Homo sapiens: one gene and its partners. The gene in region 4 interacts genetically with the main gene of each other region. Each region holds a gene or a part of one and is shown on either strand. Other genes may lie near its edges. The genes, in order: RAB1A, EIPR1, ARMH3 and VPS54.

The links.
Region 1: changes in VPS54 (region 4) and RAB1A are lethal when combined (synthetic lethality), as found in Homo sapiens cells (one study listed by BioGRID).
Region 2: changes in VPS54 (region 4) and EIPR1 are lethal when combined (synthetic lethality), as found in Homo sapiens cells (one study listed by BioGRID).
Region 3: changes in VPS54 (region 4) and ARMH3 are lethal when combined (synthetic lethality), as found in Homo sapiens cells (one study listed by BioGRID).

The regions. Positions count from the first base shown.
Region 1 is NC_000002.12:65,092,101-65,099,133, reverse strand, and holds part of RAB1A (ras-related protein Rab-1A), read left to right. Parts: intron 1-1,067; coding exon 1,068-1,163; intron 1,164-7,033. UniProt on the Homo sapiens protein: The small GTPases Rab are key regulators of intracellular membrane trafficking, from the formation of transport vesicles to their fusion with membranes.
Region 2 is NC_000002.12:3,188,447-3,192,828, forward strand, and holds the end of EIPR1 (EARP and GARP complex-interacting protein 1), read right to left. Parts: intron 4,136-4,382; coding exon 3,968-4,135; intron 1,063-3,967; coding exon 888-1,062; 3' UTR 524-887; downstream 1-523. UniProt on the Homo sapiens protein: Acts as a component of endosomal retrieval machinery that is involved in protein transport from early endosomes to either recycling endosomes or the trans-Golgi network.
Region 3 is NC_000010.11:102,004,145-102,011,177, forward strand, and holds part of ARMH3 (armadillo-like helical domain-containing protein 3), read right to left. Parts: intron 5,880-7,033; coding exon 5,833-5,879; intron 5,306-5,832; coding exon 5,230-5,305; intron 2,490-5,229; coding exon 2,396-2,489; intron 340-2,395; exon of another isoform or gene 222-339; intron 1-221. UniProt on the Homo sapiens protein: Involved in GBF1 recruitment, Golgi maintenance and protein secretion.
Region 4 is NC_000002.12:64,016,396-64,023,871, reverse strand, and holds the start of VPS54 (vacuolar protein sorting-associated protein 54), read left to right. Parts: upstream 1-4,443; 5' UTR 4,444-4,934; intron 4,935-7,476. UniProt on the Homo sapiens protein: Acts as a component of the GARP complex that is involved in retrograde transport from early and late endosomes to the trans-Golgi network (TGN).

The DNA of each region.
Region 1 (7,033 bases), 1.1 Mb from region 4:
CAGGCATGGTGGCTCACACCTGTAATCCCAGCACTTTGAGAGGCTCAGGCAGGGGGATCACTAGAGGTCAGGAGTTTGAGACCAGCCTGACCATCATCACGAAACCCTGTCTCTACTAAACGTACAAAAATTAGGCAGGCGTGGTGATGCACGCCTGTAGTCCCTACTACTCAGGTGGCTGAGTCATGAGGATTGCTTGGACCCCGGGAGACAGAGGTTGCAGTGAGCTGAGATCATGACACTGCACTCCAGCATGGGCAACAGAGCAACATCCTGCCTCAAAAAAAAAAAAAAAAAGAAGTACTGTTACATGGTACAACATGGATGAACCTTGAAAACATTCTGCTAAATGAAGGAAGACAGACACAGAGGGCCACATATTTTATGATTCCATTTATACGAAATGTCCAAAATTGGCAAATCTAAAGAGAAAGTAGATTAGTGGTTGCCAGGGAGTGAAGACGGGTTCTTTCTGGAGTGAAGAAAATGTCCTGGAATTCGTGGTTGTAGTTTGCAACCTTGTGAATGTATAAGGACCACTGAATTGTCCACTTCAAAAGGGTGACTTTTATGTTATGTGCATTATATCTAAAAAAAAAAATCATAATTAGGAAGCAAGATTGACTTCTAAGAAAAAGCGGAGTGAAATTGTTGTTTTGTGGTGAATAAATTGGGTGGGTGGGTCGCAAGAGTTTTGCTGATTAGTGATTAGAAAAATTATTCATAATCATTGAAAATATAAAATATTTTTCTATATGATGTATGTAAAGAATTTGGCAAGAGATGATGTTTGGAAAAAATAAAGAATGGCTATTGTAGAGATCTTAAGGAAAGAAACTACAGTTAAGTAGTGCTTTGTAATCAGAATATGAAGTAAGTACTGAAAGTGGATGGAGTGGCTGTTGTCAGCATGTTATACTTTATACATTTCATTCATAAATTTGGACTGTAGATAAAAGTAAACTTTTTTTTTATTTACTCTTGAACAACAGTTTTTTTTTTTCCACTTAGACTTGCATCTGCTCCACTGAACAATACATTTAATTGTTAATTATTTCCCCCTTCAGGATGATACATATACAGAAAGCTACATCAGCACAATTGGTGTGGATTTCAAAATAAGAACTATAGAGTTAGACGGGAAAACAATCAAGCTTCAAATAGTAAGTGACTTGGCTAGTAATTTTTTTGAAATTTATTTTGGTAAATTTGTAATGTATTGTTATTTTGTATATATTTACTATGCTAACAAAATTGAATGTAAAATGTCTTAAGATTCATGTACTTAAGATAGAATGGTAGAATAAGAATTACTTAGATTAAAAATAATATTTTCAAGATTACTTAAGCCTCATTGAATTTTCTATTCATGAAGCAGAGAAACTCATGTTTTAAGTCAAACTTGGTCCTCATCTTTTTCTTTTATCAGTGGAAATCTAAGTTCAAGTTTACCTTGTCCTACACTGCAAATGTTATAGACCATTTTTGTTTGTCTTTTACTGTGCTAAGTGCATGGAACATTAAAGGAACCCTAGGAAGAGATTCTTCATATGTGGCTCAGTTGAAGAGAAGTACTTATGTAGTTCTAAGTATTTTTATTAGATAGTGTGCACCAACTCTGTAGAAACACAGAATTTTGTTGGAAAAAGGAACTTAGTTTTTGTAACATGTTCATTTTACTGCTCAAAAAAACGAATGCTGAAAGATTTAATGACTTGCCTACAGTTACTGGTAGAACCAAGTGACCGAAGCTCTGTCTTCAATATTTTGTGTCTCTGTGCCATCCTATCCCCCTTATCCATCTTTACACCCCCAGCCCCCAATTAAATATAGGCAATTATAATAGTTCAGTTGTGCCTCTTCAGTATGGGTCTGAGTCCTGTCAGTGTGGGCATATCTGTGGTCTTTTAAAAAATAAATCTCTCAGTATTTTTCAGAGTAGGCTATTAGCAAGAAGTAGGCTATAAACACAGGAAACCAGTGACTGCCCCTTTTCATGGAACTGATGACACATGGAATTGGAAGGAGTCCTGCATTAGGAGTCAGAAGACTTAGATTTGTTGTCTTGGTTCTAGTATTTACCTGTTAGAGAATCATGGGTTTGTGTCTCTGGGGAAAAGGCCGAAGTAACCCTGAGACCCAGTTTCCTTTCTAAAATGTGTGTGATGACACCTGATTTACTAATTTATAAGCTAGTTGTGAGAACCAACTGTAATAGCTTTGTGTATGTGACAATACGTGTGAAAGCCCTTTGTAAACTTTTGGGCAGCATATAGATACTACTTATGATATGACATGCCCAGATAAATGGGTGTTTGATAGGTTAAGTTGCTCCCTTTTCTTACATGACTCTGATGAGGAAAAGAAGGTATGTTAACAAAAGATAGGTGGCTGTGGATATTGATATAAGTAAACACACTTGATGTGTCAAATTAGGACTTGCAAGGATTTAGTTTTCAGAAATAGCTTGAAATACTTTCAATCAGTGAACAAATTACCCTCCATATTTTTTCCCACGATATAAGTACAGTCTCAACCTTTTATTTGGCACCATAAAGAGCACATAAAGATCTACCCAAAACTGTACTTTAAAGCACTGGTATGGAATAATTGTATTATGTGTGATCATTGGTGTTTATAAGATTTGGGTGTGTATTCGTGTGTGAAACATTCATATTTTGTTACTTTCCTGTGGCTGGAAGGGATCTTATAGGACACTGTCTTTCATCTTTGTCTGTCTTTCATCTTTAATAGGAATTTCTTTTCCATGCCTGAAGGCCTCATTTTGAACATTTTGTTTGTTTGTTTTTTTATTTTTTGAGATACAGTATTGCTCTGTCTCCCAGGCTGGAGTGCAGTGGCGCGATTTGAGCTCACTGCAACCTCCGCCTCCTGGGTTCAAGTGATTCTCCTGCCTTAGCCTCCCTAATAGCTGGGATTATATGTGTGTACCACCATGCCCGGACAATTTTTTTTTTTTTGAGATGGAGCCTTGCTTTGTCGCCCAGGCTGGAGTGCAGTGGTGCAATCTTGGCTCGCTGCAGCCTCCGCCTCCCAGGTTCAAGCAGTTCTCTTGCCTCAGCCTCCTGAGTAGCTGGGATTACAGGCGTGCGCCACCACACCCTGCTAATTTTTTGTATTTTTAGTAGAGACAGAGTTTCACCATGTTGGTTAGGCTGGTCTCGAACTCCTGACCTCGTGATCTGCCTGACTCGGCTTCCCAAAGTGCTGGGATTACAGGCATGAGCCACTGTGCCCAGCCTTCCGATAATTTTTGTATTTTTCGTAGAGATGGGATTTCGCCATGTTGGCCAGGCTGGTCTCAAACTCCTTACCTCAAGTGATCCACCCGTCTTGGCCTCCCAAAGTGCTGGGATTACAGGCGTGAGCCACCACGCCTGGGTTTTTGAACATTTTTAAGAAGCTTACCATTTTTTCGAAATAGCTAGTTCCATTTTACACATAACTTCAGCTAGGCATGTTGCCTCATGCCTGTAATCCCAGCACTTTGGGAGGCCGAGGTCAGAGAGTCACTTGAGGCCAGGAGTCAACATAGCTCCTGTGACCAGCCTGGTCAACATAGAGACTCTATCTCTACCAAAAAAAAAAAAAAAAAAGTAACCAGGTGTGGTGGTCCATGCCTGTAGTCCTAGCTCCCCAGGAGACTGAGGTGGGAGGAATGTTTGAGCCCAGGACTTCAAGGCTGCAGTGAGGCAAGATTGCACCATTGCACCCCAGCTTTGGGGACAGAGTGAGAGACCCTGTCTCAAAAACAAAATAAGGCTGGGCGCAGTGGCTGTCCGGGCGTCGTGGTTCACGCTTATAGTCCTAGCACTTTGGGAGGCCAAGGTGGGCAGATTGCCTGAGCTCAGGAGGTCTAAGACCAGCCTGAGCAACATGGCGAAACCTCATCTTTGCAAAACATACAGAAAAAAACAAAAAAAACCACAAAACCTCTAGTTGCCAGTTATTTTTTTTATTTATTCCTAGTGATTCTTCTTTTTTTCTTTTTTCTGAGACAAAAATTTCACTTTGTCTCCCTCGCTAGAGTGCAGCGGTCAGCTCACTACATGATTCTTTTAGAGACATGTTAATTCTTTATATTGAGCTGAAGCCTGTTTCTTTTACTTCTGTCTCTTCTTATTCCTCCGCCTTGTAGAGCTGCCTGAATCAGATTAATTCCTCTTTTATTGGCAAGCCTGCCCTTCAGATTGATCTTATCACAACCTTTCTTCTACCTCTGAAGTCCTCATTCTTTCCTGTAATGATATTTTCAGAACCTTGTGCAATTTGGGTTATTCTTACATTTTATAAATGCCTTTTATTAAATTTGATTTCTTAAATCAAGTATGAGATATAACACATGAGGTAAATCCTGTCTTGATTTGGAGCCTGAATGAATTTCTCTCTTGAACTTCAAGGGCTCATGGCCCTTTCTTATTATTAATCAAAGACAACCATTTGTTGTTTCAGTAGCTATATTATTTCTAGTTTGGGTCTTAAGGTTTTTGATTTGCTTGTTTTTTCTTTTTTCTTTTTTTTTTTTTTTGAGACGGAGTTTCGCTCTTGTTGCCCAGACTGGAGTGCAATGGCGTGATCTCGGCTCACTGCAACCTCCGCCTCCCAGGTTCAAGCGATTCTTCTGCCTCAGCCTCCCTAGTAGCAGGGATTACAGGCATGTGCCACCACGCCGGGCTAATTTTGTATTTTTAGTAGAGATGGGGTTTCTCCATGTTGGTCACGCTGGTCTCGAACTCCCGACCTCAGGTGATCCGCCTGCCTTGGCCTCCCAAAGTGCTGGGATTACAGTCGTGAGCCACGGCGCCTGGCCGATTTGCTTGTTTTTAATTAAAATAGGGGCCTTGGCCAGGTGCAGTTGTTCACCCCTGTAATCCCAGTACTTTGGGAGGCTGAGGCAGGCAGATCTCTTGAGTTCAGGAGTTCAAGACCAGTATGGGCAACATGGTGAAACCCTGTCTCTACCAAAAACACAAAATTCAGCCAGGCATGGTGGTGTGTCCCTGTAGTTCAAGGTACTCAGGAGGCTGAGGTGGGAGGATTGCTTGAGCCCGGAGATGGAGGTTGCGGTGAGCCAAGATTGTGCCATTTGCACTCTAGCCTGGGCAACAGAGCGAGACCTTGTTTCAAAAAAAAAAAAGAAGAGGGTCTCACTTTACACTTCTGTGACTGGTGTTTTAAAAATCTAAACACAGGCCGGGCACGGTGGCTCACGCCTGTAATCCCAGCACTTTGGGAGGCAGAGGCACGCAGATCACAAGGTCAGGAGTTCGTGACCAGCCTGGCCAGCATGGTGAAGCCCATCTCTACTAAAAATACAAAAAAATTAGCTGGGCATGGTGGCAGGTGCCTGTAATCCCAGCTACTTGGGAGGCTGAGACAGGGGAATCACTTGAACCCAGGAGGCGGAGATTGCAGTGAGCCAAGATTGCGCCATTGCACTCCAGCCTGGTGACAGAGCGAGACTCCGTCTGAAAAAAAAAAAAAAAAATCTAAACACAAGATTTTACTTTTAATCCTATCATTTCCTCTTGCTTGGCTTCAGTAATCCTTCAAGTTTTCTAGGTCTTTTCAAAATCTTGATTCTGTTGATTTATATTTTAATTATCTTTTCCTTTCAGCTTTTCCTGTTCAGGTGTGACATCTGGGTCTTTATCTGAGTTTTATTAGATTATAAAACATTCAGCAAGATAGGGCAGGTACTGAGTCCAGTTGTACACCATGGAAGGCCTCTTTCTGTGATTGTTCATTCATGAGGCTTTATGAAAATGTCTACATTACACCAGGCACTTGGAGGTTACAGAGATGAATAAAACATAGTCCATTAGGAGGCAGACAATGGGAGAGACAAACATGGGAAAAAGTTACTCTGATTATGAGGAGTAATGAGAATTACATATGAAGGAAAGTATTGTTAGTACTGTTAGGATTTAGTGTCAGGAAAGTTTTCAGAGTAGCAAGGAAACATCAGAAATTTTACTCTTTCTGCCAGGCATGGTGCATGTATTATTCTGTTCTCACACTGCCACAAGGAACTGACCAAAACTGGGTGATTTATTAAAAAAAAGGTTTAATTGACTCATAGTTCTGCATGGCTGAGGAGGCCTCAGGAAACTTACTGTGGCAGAAAGGGAAGCAGGCACGTCTTACATGGCAGGAGGCGAGAGAGTGTGAAGGAAGTGAAGGGGGAAGAGCCCCTTATGAGACCATCAGATCTTGTGAGAATTCATTCACTATCACTTGAATGGGGGAAACCGTCGTCATAATCCAATCACTTCTCCATAATCCAATCACTTCCCTCAGTGATTACAACTTGAGATGAGATTTGGGTGGGGACACAGAGCCAAACCATATCAGTGCCTGTAGTCCCAGTTACTTGGAGGCTGAGGCAGGAGGAACACTTGAGCCCAGGAGTTCAAGATCTGCCTGGGCAACATAGCAATACCTCCATTTTGGATAAAAAGGAAATTTTACTTTTTGGGTGCCATTGCTTACTTTAATCAGCTGTAACTTCTTGTTGACTTTTAGTCAAAAAACAATTTTTCCTTCTATCTTTGTGAAAGAGGTTGGTGAGCAAGGAAGAAAAGGAAACTTGCTTTATTGAGCAGCTTCTATAGTCAGGCACATTTTACAAACATTAGTTCATTTAAACCCCTTTAGCTGTTGTACAAGGTGAATGCTATCTAGCATTTACAGATGAAGAAACTGTTAGGTGACTCTCCCTAATATTAAATAACCAGGAACCTGGATTTGATGTTTTGAAGTCAGGGTAGCTTGATCCTCGAGTTCATGCTTCCTCCAAGGATACACTGAAAGACTTTGAGCCTCTTTTTTTTTTTTTCTCTTTTTTTGAGACAGGATCTGGCTCTCTTGCCCAGAGTGCAGTGGTGTGATCTCAGCTCACTGCAACCTCTGCCTCCTGGGCTCAAGCGATTCTGCCTCAGCCTCTCGAGTAGCTGGGACCACAGGCGCACGCCAGCATACTTGGCTAATTTTTGGATTTTTAGTAGAGACA
Region 2 (4,382 bases), about 61 Mb from region 4:
AACACGCACCAGACACAGAGAACAGACCCCGCACACCCAAAGGAACCACGAACAGAGGCTGCGAGGTCAGTGTTTGAGGATTCCTAAGGATAAGCACTGATGAGTGTAGGAGCCTGTGAGGGGTCCCCGACAACTGAGACGCGGGAGCCCAACCCCAAGCTCCGAGGTGAGGGAGGACGGCACCTCCAAGGCCACCAGTGCGTGCGCGTGGGGAGGAGGCCCTGCCCGGCTCACAAGGTGGGCAGGACACAGCACAGGATGGGCTGCAGAGACCAGGGGAGGCCCAGGGCGGGCAGAGCCTGCGTCTACAGCAGTGAAAATGCATCACACCAGCTCAGCCCAGGGCGCGAGCCAGGTGCCCACCAGCAGCCAGCATGGCTCCCGGGAGTTCCATGCTAGGGCGGCGTAGACAGCACACGTCTGTCCATCTGCATTTTCCCTGGGTCAGGAAAGAGAAAATGGACAAAGACCCAGGAGATGGGGTCACAGGGCAGAGCTCCTGAAAGAATGAGCCGAGCACCTGTGCAGCGTGGATTTATTTTATTTCATTTTTTACTCTCAAGAGAAAGAAGAGTTACTATTGCAGGAACAGACATTTTTTTAAAAAGCGAAACTCCTGACACCCTTAAAACAGAAAACATTGTTATTCACATAATAATGTGGGGCTCTGTCTCTGCCGACAGGGGCTGGGTTCGGGCATTAGCTGTGCCGTCGACAATAGCCCCATTCACCCCATTCATAAATGCTGCTGCTACAGGAAGGGAACAGCGGCTCTCCCAGAGAGGGATCCACCTGGAACACGAGTCACCTCCAAAGAGCTGCGACTGTTTGAGAATCTGCCAAGAGGAAAACCACTCAATGGGACCTGGATAACCCAGGCCCGGGAGTCATAGCAGGATGTGGTACTTCAGGGCCCTGGGCACCCTGTTGATCACGAGCCTCCCGTCATAGCTCAGGGAGGCAAACAGCCACGGGTCAGCCGAGGACCAGTCCACGGCATAGACGCTGTCCTCGTGCTCCTCGTAGGTGGCGATCACGTTGTCCTGCAGGGGCTCCTTGCTCCTGCAATGCAACAGAGGCAGACGTGAGCGCAGCAGCTCCGGCGGGGCGGGCAGGAGAGGGGCAGGGAGGACGCGAGCGCTGACATCGGGAGACACGGGAGGTACTGGGGCCTCAGCTTTCTCCGCTGTGGGATGGGAAGAATTAGAGGAGCCCACACCGAGGACGGTGGGGTGGTCCCTGCAGAAGCCCAGAAACCCTCACTGTCACTGTGAGGAGTGGGCATTTCTCAAAAGGTTTATGGAAATCGGCGACATTGGCACATGGTGTCTTGGTTTCTTCTGTCCTTGGCCCCCGGGTGCCTGGGTTGATATTTTGTTGGAGGTCTTCCAAGGGCTTCCTTTAGCTCAGGGGAAAGACTGGGGGAAGTAGTCACCGTGTCTGGGTAACACAGGATGTAAACGCCCCTATTGCTTGAGCAGAAAGGACCCTGGGAAGCAGCGGGTCCAGCTCCTGGCTGTGTAGGAGTCAGAGGCTGGGGCACAAGGAGCCTTGCTAGGATGGGAGTGGGGCTGGGCTGAGGATCCCCCAGGACACCAAGAGGAAGACGCCCTGGCCCTGTGGGAGCAGCAGAGGCGTGACCTGCCTGGCCTCCCCCAGGGTGTTTCCCACCTCGCCTCCCTTGACTGTGAGTTACCCTCACTGGGAGCCCTGACCAGGGGATCCTCACACAAGAAGCACCACTTCCTCAGCACAGCGTGCATGGGGAGGGGGCCCTGCCCGGCTCACAGCGGCCACTTTCCGGTGGACACAGGCTTCTCTGGCACTTTACTTCCCATTTCACAAAAAAATTCCCACATAATTTGTGTACCGCATTCTAACTGCTTTTGCATTTCTTTGTAGGAAAATGCTTCACCCCCCCAGCAAGACGGACCCTCCAGAACTCGCATGGTCTCTGGGAAGCTGGCTTCCCACAAAGTGGACCTGCCAGTGGTCAACTGCTGTTGTGGGACAAATGCCAGGTGCAAATCCTTAGGAGGAATCATGGTTTCCTGAATGCAGCAGGACATCAGGACTGAGGGATGTCCTAAGAAGTCTGCGTAGCCCCGATCACCTCCTCCCTTCCTATCTTGCTCCCATGACATTGCCGCCCAGAAGACAACGCCAGCAGTCTTCCGACCAACGGGCCCATCAGGCTCCTCCCCTAACAGGGACAGACATGGTGAGGAAGTGCAGACTCCCTGGGCCACTGGCAGAGAGGACGGTAAAGGGAGCCAGGCCCACAGGCACCGAGAGACCACTGGGCAGATGCTACCGTGCGTGTGCTTAAATACTATTCTATGGCAGACCGAGTTTCTAAGGTTTGAACAGAAAAACAACAGAGTCTGGCTCATGCCTGTAATCCTAGCACTTTGGGAGGCTGAAGTGGGCAGATCACTTGAGCTCAGGAGTTTGAGACCAGCTTGGGCAACATGGCAAAACTCTGTCTCTACAAAAAGTTAGCCAGACATGGTGCCATGGGCCTGTTGTCTCAGCTACTTGAGAGGCTGAGGTGAGAGGATCACCTGAGCCCAGGAGGTCAAGGCTGCAGTGAGCCATGATCGTGCCACTGCACACCAGCTTGGGTGACTTTTTTGTTTGTTTTTGTTTGTCTCAAAAACAAAACAAAGGCAACAGAGTCAAGAGACAAACAGATGGGCCCATCGCCACTGCAGAAAGGGTCCAAAGACAGAGACAATCAGATGGGCCCATCGCCACTGCAGAGAGGGTCTGAAGACAGAGACAATCAGATGGGCCCATCGCCACTGCAGAGAGGGTCTGAAGACAGAGACAATCAGATGGGCCCATCGCCACTGCAGAGAGGGTCCGAAGACAGAGACAATCAGATGGGCCCATCGCCACTGCAGAGAGGGTCTGAAGACAGAGACAATCAGATGGGCCCATCCCCACTGCAGAGAGGGTCCGAAGACAGAGACAATCAGATGGTCCCATCGCCACTGCAGAGAGGGTCTGAAGAAAGAGGTCTTCTCACAGAGGAATTTTAGACCAAGCTCAGGTGGGTAGGGGGAGAATTCAGACAAAAAACAGTGCAAAGGATCCCAAAACAGAGTGACAGACCCCATCGTATCTAAGGGCTCTGTCCAACTTCACAAGGTTTTATTCCAGAACCTCCTTCCTCTGGAACCTGGGGCAAGAATCTCTGCGGTTGCAACTGAATTGCATCTAGTCACCCCCCAGGAAGCGGCTGCCACTTCTAAAGGTGGACTGCTCAAGGACACAGGGGCCCTGGCACTGCACCGCTGACCAGAGGCGGGCATGAAGAGGCTGCCCTTAGCGATCTCCCATCTCACCTAGGATCAGAAATCAAGGTGCATAGGAAAAAGCTTTGGGAAAATCCAGAACCATGATGGTGTGACTAGAAAACCCACATCATGGTTGACCACATTTTGTAGAGTATCTAGAAGTGAAGTAGGACCCGGGTTTGAGACTGGGAAGGTTGGCCTGGAGTCTCCGCCCTGCTACCAGCCAGTGGAAGGCCCGTGAGCTGATGGCCAACAACCCGACCCCAACACGCTCAAATCCACGCCAGTGAAGACACTGACTGTGATGCGTCTCTTACAGGGAGTGCTGTGAGGATTGGGATATATTCGTTCTATTATTATTCATGCTCAAGTTTGAAGACCAGTGAGTCTTTTAAATCTTACAGATGGCATTCAATAAGAATACAAACACAAATAGATCTATTTTAAAACCGCACCTAACCCTAACGCACCTGCAGTGCCTCCCACCTGGGCTGCTAATGACGGCACCCCTGGAACTGTGAGTCCCCACAGCTGCAGTGGGTAAGGAGAGTGTCCCCCAAATGCACTCCTGGAAACTTTCTACATACACAGCCTGGCTCGGGAGATGGCTGTGCAGACAGGAGGCTCTGGTACAGCGTGAGCCACTCTGCAGTGCGTGCCCTTACTTCTCTTCAGAACGGTGGTCCTCCTGGTCACTGATGTCATCGTCGTCTACCAAGTGGCCGAAGGGCTCCGACGAGATGGACACCATGTTGGAAAGGATGACTCTGCTGTCACTGCTGCCCGTGAGGACCAGCTGGTCATGAGAGTGGTTGTAGCGGACGTTCCACACCCTGCAAAGGGCAAGGCAGCTGCTGAAATGAACTGTCACCCGCAGGCAACACCAACAATGGATCACACCGGCTCTGAGGGCCCCACTAGGCTGGGGCTCACGTTAGGCACTGCCAGGCAATCGGCCCCCAGTCACAGGGCCTGACATAAGGCAGTTTTCCGCTGAGGTTGGGTTTACTGCAGGTTTCTCTTAAGTCCCAAGAGACAGACAGGGAAGACTAAATGTTGGCTGAAACCTACAGGAGGAGA
Region 3 (7,033 bases), on a different chromosome or scaffold from region 4:
TCAAGTCTGAGCTGAGAACAAATGTTATAGCTAAACTGCCGGCTTTTAAAAATATGGCTCTGGTGACATACCTTTAAATATAAGTGGGCTACTGAACACCACTATAATTAAGATCTAAAAATTAAAAACAAGGTTGTAATACTTAGGAACCCTACAGAAGGAAATGAGTTAGGAGACAGGGAAAAGAACAAATAGAACAGAGACAGAATAAAATCCCTCACAAATTAAAATCTTCTTCCTAAGGAAGAGTCATTCCTTGATCTTTGGCTTCATAATTCTTCCCAGCAGCTTTTGTCAAGGGAGACAGTCATTTGAAAGTGGGCTGACTTGATCTTCCCACTAGAAAAAATAAAAGCTCACTGGTTGTAGGTAAGTAAGCACAAATCCTACCATTGCATAATCAAGTGTGTGGGTGGAAGTGTTCACAATGAACAGTTTGAAAGGCAGTTCTCTGAAGCATCCAAACCCCAACATCACATGGAACTCATATATATATATATGGCTTTTGATATCCATGGTAACCAGGCAGGGTTCATTCTTAAAGAGAAAGTACTGTATTTCCATTGGGTTATTCTGTGGCCTGAATAAACAGAGACAAGTAGGCAATCCTTACTACTTGCTCCTTCTCAGTAAGATATTTTGGGGCTGGGCATGGTGGCTCATGGGTGTAATCCCAGCACTTTGGGAGCCCGAGGCAGGCGGATCACCTGAGGTCAGGAGTTCGGGACCAGCCTGGCCAATACAGTGAAACCCCATCTCTACTAAAAATACAAAAATTGGCCAGGCGTGGTGGCTCACGCCTGTAATCCCAGCACTTTGGGAGGCCGAGGCAGGCGGATCACGAGGTCAGGAGATCGAGATCATCCTGGCTAACACTGTGAAACCCCATCTCTACTAAAAATACAAAAAATTAGCCGGGCATGGTGGCACACACCTGTAGTCCCAGGGAGGCTGAGGCAGGAGAATCACTTGAACCTGGGAGGTGGAGGTTGCGGTGAGCTGAGATCGCACCCCTGCACTCCAGCCTAGGCAACAGTGCGAGACTCCGTCTCAAAAACAAATAAATAAATAAAAATAAACATACAAAAATTAGCCGGGCATTGTGGTACATGCCTGTAATCTCAGCTACTCAGAAGGCTGAGGCATGAGAATCGCCTGAATCTGGGAGGCAGAGGTTGCAGTGAGCCGAGATCACACTACCACACTCTAGCCTAAATGACAGCAAGACTCTGTCTCAAAAAAAAAAAAAAAAAAAAAAAGATATTTTGGGATTTGGCTTTCAATTCTAAACAGATCCAATTTGCTACCATATATATAACTAACAATGGCACCTCCCTGTCATAGTTCTGTACTGTTTATACTGCCTGGAAATGTTACTGCCACGGGTGGTATATGAAAACTTAAAGGAGAGAAAGAATAAAGAAGGTCATTTCACGTACAAACAGTGGGGAGGCAAAAAGAAAGTATCAAAGTTGGATTGTCTGTACTTCTTTACCAAAACAAGGTCAATCTTTGAGCTACAACATCAAATATTAACATAGATTGTTTTTAGGTTACAATATTCCACCAAACACACTCAGCCTATAATAGACCTCAAAATTTTTGGCAAAAATTCATAATTTCTTTTCTGTTGCCTTTTTCTTAGGTTCCAGCCATAAGATTTATGAAGGGGAAATTTTCACCGTTGTTGTCTTGAGGGAGATAAATCTTACGTATCCACCAAACTCCCAATTATAATACACTCAAAGCCTGTCCTTTCCAACTGGGAGTGGCTGATAGACACATAACAGTGAGTGAGTGCCAGGTTCACATTCTCATTCATTTATTCAACAAATATTTATTAAGCAAGTACCATGCTGGGCACTATGCTAGGCATTTAGTAGTAAACAAAATAGACAAGATCCTGCTTACATGTTTGGGTTCTCAGTCTCTACTCTCACTAATCTTAGGCAAACTGCTTCATTTCTCTGGCCTTAATTCCCTCATTGATCAAATGGTAACATCAGATAACATTACTATTTTACATTCATTTCAGTGCTTTATAATCACAAGGTGACATTTTTCACAAAATATCTCATCTGAGCCTCACAAGGACTCTGAGAGTGTGGCAGGACAGGCATTACTGACCTTGCAGGTCTAGCACTCCATGCCTCTACAACTACTCCCTGAGGAGGAAAAGCTAGAGTTATGTAAGCTTCTTTTACAGAGAAAATCACTGGACTGTCTTTTTCCAAAGTTTTCTTTGGAAATTTAGGAGGCCTGAAGGATAGTACTACAGACCAATTTAGTGGGAAAAATTAACAACTACGTAGGTTCTTTGTTGAACACAGCTATGCTCACTCTGAGAGATCTAAGATCATATTAACCAAGAAAAACAAAGTGGTGGTGGGCTCACCATCAGAGGAAGGCGGTGTGGTCCCAAGTGGTGTGACTGGGGTTGTAGGAGCAGGACTGACAGGGGTCGTCACCAAGCCCATTTCTGGATGGCTCTGAAAAAGATACACAGATGTGTAAGAAAACAGAAAATCCAGTTCTCCCTGAGTATCAAGTGCCTAATACCAATAAGGACTGGTATTCTGGACCTTATAATTTTTTTTTTTTGAGACAGCATCTTGCTATGTTGTCCAAGCTGGTCTCGAAATCCTAGGCTCAAGCACTCTCCTGCCTCAGCCTCCTGTGTACGTAGGACTACAGATGCATGCCACTGTGCCCCTAGTCTCATAATTAGAAAGCTCACTGAGGCTGGGCACAGTGGATCACACCCATAATCCCAGCACTTAGGGAGGCCTGGGCAGATCACAAGGTCAGGAGATCGAGACCATCCTGGCCAACACGGTGAAACCCCGTCTCTACTAAAATACAAAAAATTAGCCAGGCATGGTGGTGCATGCCTGTAGTCCCAACTACTTGGAAGGCTGAGGCAGGAGAATCACTTGAACCCAGGAGGCGGAGGTTGCAGTGAGGTGATATCACGCCACTGCACTCCAGCCTGGTGACACAGCAAGACTCTATCTCAAAAAAAAAAAAAAAAAAAGAAAAAAAAAGCTGAGAAGGGACTACTTCTGTATTTCGTTCTCATGAGTACTTGATTACGACTGATGCTTGCTAATCTCTAATAAGCTCTGTGTGCTAATTTATCTTAAGCAACTAGGTTCCCATTACATAAGTTTTTCTGTGGCACCACAGACATTTAAAAAAAAAAAAAAAAACTGGGGTCAACAAATATACAGGATTATTCTACAAGAGAGCAGAGAACATTTGCAATCCCATCCAGACCTGGGATCTCATCAGATCAACCTAAAACACATCAATAGGCTGTTCTGATAACCAAATAATTGACTAGCAGATGTAGATGAGTCAAGGGGATACCAGGTACTATAAAAAGAGCTATTCAGCCGGGTGCGGTGGCTCACACCAGTAATCCCAGCACTTTTGGGAGGCCGAGGCAGATGGACCACGAGGTCAGGGGATCAAGACCATCCTGGCTAACACAGTGAAACTCTGTCTCTACTAAAAAAAAAAAAAAAAAAAAAAAAAAATTAGCCAGGTGTGGTGGCAGGCACCTGTAGTCCCAGCTACTCGGGAGGCTGAGGCAGGAGAATGGCGTGAACCCGGGAGGCAGAGCTTGCAGTGAGCAGAGATCGTGCCACTGCACTCCAGCCTGGGTGACAGAGCGAGACACCATCTCCAAAAAAAAAAAAAAAAAAAAAAAGCAAAAGAGCTATTCAGATGGCGGCCTTCCTGTTCCACAACAAACAAAAGTGTGTGTGCCTTCATTGGGAGGCAAAGACATGGTGAGACACCCAGTAGGGACCAAAACAGATGACTCTTCTGTCCCTAACCTTTCTTAGCCATCCCTCCCACATCAGCTCTTGAGAATTAAGCTGAGTGATAGCTGTTTTTAACTTCCCTTTTCTTCCCTAACAGCTTTACCAGCACTTTACCTTCCTCACCTCTTCCTTTACAATCAGTTATAGGATTTGGAGAGCAGATAAGAAACGAGTGAAAATAATAACTAAAGTCTCTATGTTATCAGTCATGAAAACTCTTAAGTGTTCTATGAAGCAGATCTCAAACCAGCATGATGCTTTTTAAGCATGACCTTATTTTTGTGTTAAAATTCAAATCAATAGATTCCATATACATCTACCCTTTGAGAAAAAGCATAAGCAAACTTTCCCTTAAAATAACCCTACATACATATTTTAAACAGTCTGGCTTTAAGATAATAACACTTTATCAATTTTTTAAAATGGCTTTCATGGACAGCTCTTGAGTTCTTGGTCTACTTTAGTCCTCTTCTATGCCAATTACTGTGGCTATCCCTCAGGCATGTGACCCATCGCTCAGTATTCTGGGGGTATTTTTGTTTGTTTTTTTATTTTGTTTTATTTTGTTATGTTTTGTTTTTATTTTATTTTTTTTTGAGACAGAGTCTCACTCTGTCACCCAGGCTGGAGTGCAATGGCGCGACTTCGGCTCACTGCAAGCTCTGCCTCCTGGGTTCACGTCATTCTCCTGCCTCAGCCTCCCAAGTAGCTGGGACTACAGGCGTCCGCCACCACGCCCAGCTATTTTTTTTTTAATTTTTTTTTTATTTTTAGAAGAGACAGGGTTTCACCGTGTTAGCCAGGATGGTCTTGATCTCCTGACCTTGTGATCCGCCCACCTCAGCCTCCCAAAGTGCTGGGATTACAGGCGTGAGCCACAGCGCAGGGCCCAGCGCTCAGTATTCTATGACTTCCTTTCAATGTATGTAAACCACGTTATCTGTTAACAGCTAACCTTAACCTGGCCAGGATATTTTTTACTTTTTTCCTCTGGAAATTGGTGAGATAATAAGGTGAGTGGCTTGGCCTATTTTATCTCCAGTTGTAATTCCACAGTGGTGTGGAAAGCAGAAAGCCCAATATAAAAATCCACATAGCGGATAATACCAGGGATTTCTAGTGAGCAAAATGAAGTCATGACAATTCATTTGGGTTAACAGGATCAATAAATTGGCCAAAAAAACTAACTTTGCACGTTATTAGACCCATTTCAGCACCAATGGAAACATACATATTTGAGGACAGCAGGAAACAAAGGCAACTGATTCAACTCCTTGTTACTACCACTTACCAATGCAAAGCAGGGTTTAAACAAGTACAGCCAGATAGGCTTTTCAATGGAATTAATCGGTATGAAATTTAGAGAGAAAAAAACACTGGGATTTTTAATGTGACCAACCTGAGCTAATACTGTGATGAAGTTGCGATTTAAATGAACAGCTTCATAAAGTGCCAGAAGAATGGCCTCATTGGTTCTAAAGAAAAAGAGAACAAATTGGAGCAGTTTTTATAGTGGGGGGAGTTAAAACAGTATAACCATGAAGATAAGATTGGATTGCACCCCAGCGCCTCATTATCAATTCCTTTGCATTTCTAAAGTTCCCCTTTACTTGCCATTTGGGCGTATGCAAAAGTGTATAGGCAGGAGTCAGGGCCTTCACTTTAATTCCTTAGGACCAGTTCTCATCTACTTCATTATCTTCCCTCTGTTTTTCCACCTCAACCCAGTTAAGTCCTCAACTGGCTCAGACACCCATCCCTCTTTTGTTTCATTGCAGAGATAGTCTGGCAACAGTTGTTCAGCTTATTGTCGCTCAATACATATGAAAAGCAGAAATTTCTAAGGGTCCATTAATGTTCAAAACCCATGAAACATTTGAAAATCACCAAAAAAGTATGATTCTGTAAAAGATTAGCAAGAGGTAACACTGCACACTCTCATATCCAGCAGGACAGCCCACACTAAAGTCCAAGTCACTGCACAAGAATGTCAGGCACTTACTGTACTGAGATTTTCTCATGGGCATCTGCTATGAACATGCTGCCCACCTGTGGAAGAAAAGGGGAATTGCAAACTTATAGCAGGAGGATATGAGAGGAGCTTTATGCCTAGGAAGCCTTTTATCAGTGAAGAAAACAAGCTGCTTCCACCTGGGGAGAACTTGGAACTCTAGGCCATAAGTCACACACACCAAAACCAGCCCACTTTGAAAATCTTAAAAGACTCATAAGTAATAAATGAAATAATGAGAATCCTACTAAATCATCTTGCCTAGTAAATCATCTTGCCTACTAAATCACCTCGCTTTAAAGAAAAAGCCTAGTACTTTTGTCCAACTCTCCTTTTCAGTGTGTAAGTTTAGTCCCTCTGACAGTTAACCTACACATCTTCATCACTCTGTATCTTTCCTAGAAGTTGCTTATTTGAAGTCAGAAACTAACTTAGGAAAAACTTCACAGGAAGCAGGCTGACTTCAACCAACATAAAGCTATCTTTGGGAACAATATTCAGGTTTCAGACCAAAGCTGTCTATATGAGATCCACTCTCCATTTTTCAGATAACAAAATCTTTAGTTTGTGTCCTAGTCAGAGCAAGTGAATAAGTAAATGGAGTAGGCTGCCTCTAATGTGTATGATATCAGAAGCACTAAGATGCCTACACCCACTAAAAAATACCTCTTCCACCTCCTTAATTATGCTTGAAACTATACACAAACCTATGCTCCTAGAGCTTCATGTGTTTGGTACAAAACTTTCTGAAAACTTGACTGAAAGGCAGAGATATCTGGGAGCAGTATAATTGTATCTAATTCATTTCATCAAACACCAGTACAAAACTCATACTTCTCTAGCCCCTGAGAGACTTCACTCATTTACATTTTGGAGTTAAAGAGTTTATCAGGCCCCTTCCTGAGAACAGGCTGAGAAGGCAGAAGGAACAATTCGTAAGCAGTGGAGGAAAAAGAATTGCAGAAGTGGAGGAGGAGAGGGGGCAACTACTTCTTGCAACTAACCAAAAAATTGTCTTGCCCTAGAGCTGAATACTTGGATAATAATGCCCGAAAGACAGACTTTCTGAATCTGCCTAGATTCTAGAATCTCCTAGATTTATCTCTTCAAAATCAGTCCCAGATTATCTGGTACCAAATGCCAAGAAACCTTGCCCTGGAGTCTTGCCAGCTGGACCAATAACTTCCCTAAA
Region 4 (7,476 bases):
AAAATAAATGCTGCCAACAACCTGAAGGAGACTGGAAGCAGATTCTTCCTCAGTCAAGCTTTCAGATGACAATACAGGCTGATGGATGCTTTGATTGCAGCCTTGTGAAACCTTAAGCAAAGTTAAGTTGTGCTGAGACTCCTGACTCAAGAAACCATGACATAATAAACGTGTGTTGCTTTAAATTGCTAAATTGGCGATAATTTGTACATACCAATAGAAAACTAATATACCATAGTATCTTGGTTTTTCCCTATGCTTGGGGTGCAGTAAATTCTTAGTAGATTACAGCTGCTATTATTATAATAATCAAAATGGAAATCTGAAATATCGAGGTCAAGAAAAAAGTTAACAGAGAAATTTAACAGAGTTAAATAATTGCTTCCAAAGTAACCAAGCGGCTGGTGTAGAAGACAAAAAGATGATATGTTGAAGACTTGTATATTACTCCCAACAAGTATTGAGTACATTATCATCACCACATAAAATATTATAAATTTTCTAGTGGTGCTTATATCTACATTTAGCTTTAATATCTTACACCATACTCAAAGTAAACTGGAAAGTTTTCCTACATTAAGATAGTCCTATATTACCTATGAAGAAATATCAAAACACAGTTTCAGGTTAGAGTCATATTGTTATAAATTATCATTTATATTTTTATATACTATATATTAGCTGTATCAAAAATTGTAAAATTTTTTAAATTATAAAAACACATATAATTATATATTTATATATATAACATTTAAGAATAGCTCAAATATGATGCATAAAATAATTCAGGACATTATTGGATCCAAACCCTAATGAAACAATTACCAGCTTGACACCTTCAGTTCATTAGTGCATGTAAATCTTGCTTATCAAAGATAGCTTATTTATACTAAACACACAATATAATTACACATATTTAGCTGTAGAGTAGGTTAAGAATGTGGATGGGTTTCCATTGCATAGATTCAAGGTTTGCTATCACAGAAAAAAGAAGCTAGTGCTTCTATCTTACTAAATTGGAAAATTATTTTTCTCATTGTTCATTCTATCAGTGCCCCCTTTCCCCTCTGTATTTATATAGCACGGGAATGTATAGTTTCTATCAAATAAATCATTAGAAAGGCAATGTTCAGGCCGGACATGGTGGCTCACGCCTGTAATCCCAGCACTTGGGGAGGCCGAGGCGGGCAGATCGTGAGGTCAGGAGATCACGACCATCCTGGCTAACACGGTGAAACCCCGTCTCTACTAAAAATACAAAAAATTAGCCAGGCGTGGAGGCGGGCGCCTGTAGTCCCAGCTATATTGGGAGGCTGAGGCAGGAGAATGGTATGAACCTGGGAGGTGGAGCTTGCAGTGAGTCGAGATCGTGCCACTGCACTCTAGCCTGGGTGACAGAGCAAGACTCCATCTCAAAAAAAAAAAAAAGAAAGGCAGTGTTCAGTGATTGAGTAGCTATGTTAACCTTACTACTGCCACCTATACAAATATGCACAGAATACACAGTAAACATAAACATAGCCCTTTTATAGGTGTTATGGCATTAGAAAATTTGCCATTCTCCCTCTAATTAGAACATATAACCTTGATGGACTATCACTTTTCATGTGATTGGTCGGTAACAGATATAATAAATATGCCAAATACAGTGTTAGTGACATGGTAGCTAAATATTTTCTTCCTGATTCCTTTTTTTGAAGGCAATGATGGAATCTTAACTCCTATCCATTTCTTAATTTTGTATTAATTTCTTAATTTTCTATCATCTGTGCTTTCTGGAAATGTACACTAATAATATATCTATACCTATTTATTTGTGATTTGGCTTTTAGCTCTCATACTGACTGAAATGATTCAAGTGATAGCAAGTGAACATAGTAATTAATTTGAAATTTATCTAGGTTTAAATGAAATTGCTTGCCCAGTTTACACACTTTAAAAAAATTTTTGCAAACCTGATCATCAGCATTTACTTTCCTGTTTAGATTCAAGATTATGAATTGTTCTGTGGAAAAGTAAAAGTAAAAGTAAACATTGAGCTGGATCTCTGAAAGAACTAAGCACGACACTCAATGTGTATTTTCTTCCTATGGTATGTTATCAACAGATGGATAATGAGGAAGCAAACCAGACTGTCTTGTTCTAGTGTCTGGGAGACAACTGACGGCTATCATTTAGTCCAAGTGCCAAGTTGGAATCTTTTCTGGAACAAGGTGGGGTATAAACACAAATATTTTTTTAAAGGCCAAACCAGCCAGGCTTAAGGAAGTTTTTGAACTGTTGTTGACTTCCTGAGGGGGGTCAAAATATAAGAATTTGCTAAATCCAATTCCTAGCATAATCTATGAACTGATTCTAGACATAAAGAAAAATTATTTTCCTTTCTGGCCTTAGATAAAACTTGGTTAATCCTCTTGTTAATATTTTCACAGTATAAACACATCTTTTTTAATAAAAAATTTTTAAACTGACAAATAATAATTATATATATTTATAGGATCCAATGTGATGTTTTGATATATGTACACACTGTGGAATAACTAAACCAAGCTAATTAACATATCTTTCACCTCACCTACTTTTTTTTTTTTTTTTAAGAGATGGTGTCTGGCTATGTTGTCCAGGCTGGACTCAAACTGCTAGTTTCAAGGCATCCTTCCACTTCAGCTGAGACTACAAGTGTGGGCCACTGTACCCAGCTTATTTTTTTTATGGTGAGAACATTTAAAATGTACTCTTGGCTGGGCGTGGTGGCTCATGCCTGTAATCCCAGCACTTTGGGAGGCTGAGGCAGGTGGATCACGAGGTCAAGAGTTTGGAGACCAGCCTGGCAAATATGGTGAAACCCCGTCTCTACTAAAAATACAAAAATTAGCTGGGCGTGGTGGTGCGCGCCTGTAGTCCCAGCGGCTCGGGAGGCTGAGGCAGGAGAATTGCTTCAACCTGGGAGGCAGAGGTTGCAGTGAGCCAAGATCATGCCACTGCACTCTGGCCTGGGCAACAGAGCCAGACACAGTCTCAACAAAACAAAACAAAGAAAGTACTCTTTTAGCTATTCTGGAATATTAAATACATTGTTATTAACTGTGGTCATCGTGCTGTGCAATAGATCACTAAAATTTATTCCTCCTACCTGAAACTTTATACCCTTTGACTCACATTTCCCCTTTCCTCATCACCCTTTACCCCCCAGTCTTTGGTAACCACCATTCTACTCTGCTTCTATGTAAACTCATCTGGTTTTATAAGTGATCAGGGATTTAAGAGGACTTCACTCTTTTACAGTTAAATTTATTTCATATTGGGGAATGATTTTCTCACTTTGTTTCTTACATAATTTTAGAGGATTGAACTTAGAAAAATATAATGTAAGAGTTTTCTCTCAACTATTTTTGATGCTTCCTTACTTTTTGTCCTCTTTCCCCAACTTTAGCTCTTTGGTGGGGAAAATATTATTTCATAAAAGTTATGTTTGCAGTTTTCAAAGTGACTTCTTAGAAGTGAAACTTGGATCAACATTTTTTTCAACCCCCCAACTATAAGAGTTACATTTTCACTTTTGATTTGTTAAAACATACTATGTCTTATAAATGCTTGAAATTTATTTTTAGGCAAGAATTTCAACATTGAATAAAATCTTCCCAAAATTAAGTCACAAGCACTCAAAGGATTGAGGATCTTTTTCTTCCTAAAATATATGTGTGTGTGTGTGTGTGTGTGTGTCTTTATATTTATATACTAAGACCTTCCCTTTCTTGTGGACTGTGTTTTATTGGTTTAAAGTTGCAAGTCCTGTGAAACCAGGCTGAAGTCAGAATTAGAAGGTATTAATTATCATACACACTCCAAGTATCTCAGTCAAGTAACAGGAATAACTGATTACAGTGTCTGGGAGGAAGGCCTGGAACTTGGGGAAGACTTGGAGGGGAGGACTGGATGGGGAAAAGGCCTCAATAGAGAGAACTGGGTTGTTGCGGAGGGGTGACCTTTAACCTTTGGAAGGGCATTTACTAGGGAACAGCTGAAAAGCATTTACTTCGAGGGGGTGGGGGAGAGGAGGAATCTCGTGGAAGTATTTGCTTTAATAGGTCCCGGGTGATTTAGGGATGTTTCGAGTCGGTTGGTCTTGGGGGTGGCGAGGGCTACGCTGGAGGGGTCGCGTCCCAGTCCCGGGGAAGGCGGCAGGAGGTTTTCTGGGTGTTCCTGAAAACTGGGAGTTGGGGGGAAGGGTGGTGGGGAAAGTGGAATTCAGCGTGGATTTGTCTGCGTGTAGGACTATTAGAGGAGGCGCAGGGGAGCCACGCGGTGTATTCCCCGCCCCGAGAGAACTCTGGCTGCGCCTGCGACGGGCACGCCGGCCTGCGCCAAGGCCGCTTTCCCCAGGCGGCGGGCGCTCCCCCCGGCCCGGGCCGCGGCCCTCCCGCCCCGGCGGAGCCGCGCGGTGGATTGTGGGCTGGGGGCTGCGGCGGCCTCCGGCGCTGTCTCCCCGCACCCGACCGGGCCGAGCCGGCTGGGCCGGCGGGGTGAGGGAAAGCAGTGGAGTCGGGAGCAGAAGCGCTAGAGGCAGTGGTCGTGGCGCGGCGGCGGCGGCTCCCCTGGAGGCCGGGGATGTGGGAGAGGCGGTGGCAGCAGCGGCGGAGGCGGCGCTGCGGACCCGGGGGAAACTGCTGGCTGACAGGACACCCGGGAGAGACGTGAGGGAGCCGCCGCTGCCACCTCTCACCCCTGAGTGAAGCTGGGCTCGAGAGGGCGGCCCTGTGCTCCCCGGGCCGACTGGCCAGCGGGCGCGGGGCGGGGGCGGGAACCCGGGCTCGGGCCCGGCCGGGCGCCGGGCGGCGGCGGCCGTGGAGCAGCAGCCTCGGTGCGACGTGGAGGGCTGGAGGCGGCGGCGATGCACTAGGCCTCGCTCAGGGCGGCTGCCCCGGGACCCGCAGGTAGGTGTGCCCCGCGGCCCCCCGCGCGTCTCAGCCCACTCTCACCCCGACCTACAGCGGAGAGAGGGACCGAGACCCCACCCCCTCGGCTCTCCTCCCCAGCCCCAAACGGACCGAGTTTCGGTCACAGCTGACCGGCACTGAAGCTTCCATGCTCCTCTCCGCCACTTCCTTTTTTTTTTTTTTTTTTCCTTTTCACTCTCCCTCCGGGATCGGGGCTGGCAGCTGTGTTCCCTGCCTCCTGTCAGCGACCGCAAACGCCGCTCTTGCCCCTCTCTTATCTTTCCGGGATCCCAGCTCTGGAACTTCCATCACCCCCTTAGACGCTGCCCCCAAACTTTCCTTTTCTTTTTCCAGCCAGGCCCTTAGTCCTATTGGATTCTACTGGAATCGTTAAAACATTTGTTTGTTTTTCTCTCCGGGGAAGGCTAACCCAAAGAGTTACTCAGTATTTTGCATTTTGGCAATGTAGCTTGAAATAATTTGTGCAATAATTTTCTTCAGTTCTGCCTCCTTCCATCTCTGCATAGACAGAAAGGGCAGGCCCTCTCTGCCGTTTCTGCTCTCCCGTCGTTGACTTGGGAACTTTGGCTTGCCAATTATAATTAGCCGTTTGGTCTGTTCATGTGTTGAGTTCAAGATGGTATTTTTAGCATTTTGACTGACAGGCGTTTCAAAAAAAAATTTTTTTCTTCTAACCAGCTTTATTTTTTGGTCTTTATTGAGGCTCTTTCGAAGAATTAAATTGTTTGGACTGTTTTTGTTTTTAATTGGCTGTATTTCTGATTTGTCAAATCAAGGGCGGTCTTAATACTAAACGCCTTTAAGTAATACCGTGATAAATTACTTGTAGTATACCGAGAAATATTACTGCGATAACCTAAACTGCAGATTTTGATGTACATTCACTTTTATAAATCCGAAGGGGAGTTCTAATTGGAAAAAGCACCTTCAGAGCCTAAATGATTTCTAAGCAGTTAAATGATGGAACAGAGGGAATGATGGGATTTGTTTGACTGTATTTGTAGTGTAGTCAGAATCGGATTTCCTAGAAATGGATGTTGATGGTTCGTAGTGCTCATCATTGCTTATGATAGGTTACCAGTAGCTGTAATTGATAGTTGTTTGGGACGACAGTAGATGTTTGCGATTTTATTGTAATTTGGCTATTTTTAAATTATGTTCTGATAACTTAAGAATTATTACACTACCAATCTAAGAGGCAGTCTGAGGATCACTTTTTTAAATAAATGAAAAATGTTTTAATGGGTTTTTAAAATAAAGAATGCATCACAACCAAATCGTAAAGACTGTTTTGTTGTTGATATTCGTATATTTTGTTCTTGTAGAAGTATTGTTACTACAGCATTTGGCTTTCTGAAGTGTTTTTGAAATTAGAATTTAATACTAAAAGTTTACTAGGAAAAGGTGATTACTTTTGCATATGCTTATATTTTCTGGAAAGTTAAAATTGATTTCTGGATAAGATAATTTTTTGTGTCAGAATTAAAGTCAATTCCTATATAGCCCATGAAACGGCAAATTTTGCAGAATTTCTTCATCACACTCTTTTTTTTTGTTTCTTTTCTTTTTTTTTTTTTGAGACGGGGTCTTGCTCTGTTGCCCAGGCTGGAGTGCAGTGGCGCTATCTTGGCTCACCGCAACCTCCGCCTACCGGCTTCAAGTGATTCTTCTGCCTCAGTCTCCTGAGTAGCTGGGACTACAGGCGCCCCCACGCCTGGCTGATTTTTGTATTTTTAGTAGAGACGGGGGTTTCACCATATTAGCCAGGCTGGTCTTGAACTCCTGACCTTGTGATCCACCGGCCTCGGCCTCCCAGAGTGCTGGGATTAGAGGTGTGAGCCACCGCCCCGGCCCCGGCCCATCACACTCTTTTTTTTTTTTTTTTTTTTTTTAATCAACAAAAGTTAATTACAATTCCTCTTTCCTGCTCTTTGCTTTTTAAAAACTGCTTTATTGAGATAAAATTAACATACCATAAAATACACCCATTTAAGGTGTACCACTTGGCCGGGTTCAGTGGCTCACACCTGTAATCCCACCACTTTGGGAAGCCTAGTCAGGTAGATCACCTGAGGTCCAGAGTTCGAGACCAGCCTAGCCAACATGGTGAAACCCCGTCTGTACTAAAAATATATAAATTAGCCGGGCATGGGGGTGAGCGCCTGTCATCCCAGCTACTGGGGAGGCTGAGGCTGGCGAATCGCTTGAACCTGGGAGGTGGAGGTTGCAGTGAGCCAAGATAGCACCACTGCACTACAGGCTGGGTGACAGAACGAGACTCCATCTCAAAAAAAAAAAAAAAATATACAATTCAGTGGTTTTTAGATTAAATAATTGTGCAACCATCACCATAATCTAATTTTAGAACATTTTCATCATTCCCTCAAAAAACCTTTATCCATTAACAGTTACTCCCCATTCTCTTCACCCCACCCCCAGCTTTAGGCAACCACTAGTCTACTTTCTGTCTCAATATTGGCCTAATGTGGGCCTTTCATATAATGCTTCTTGGCTCATA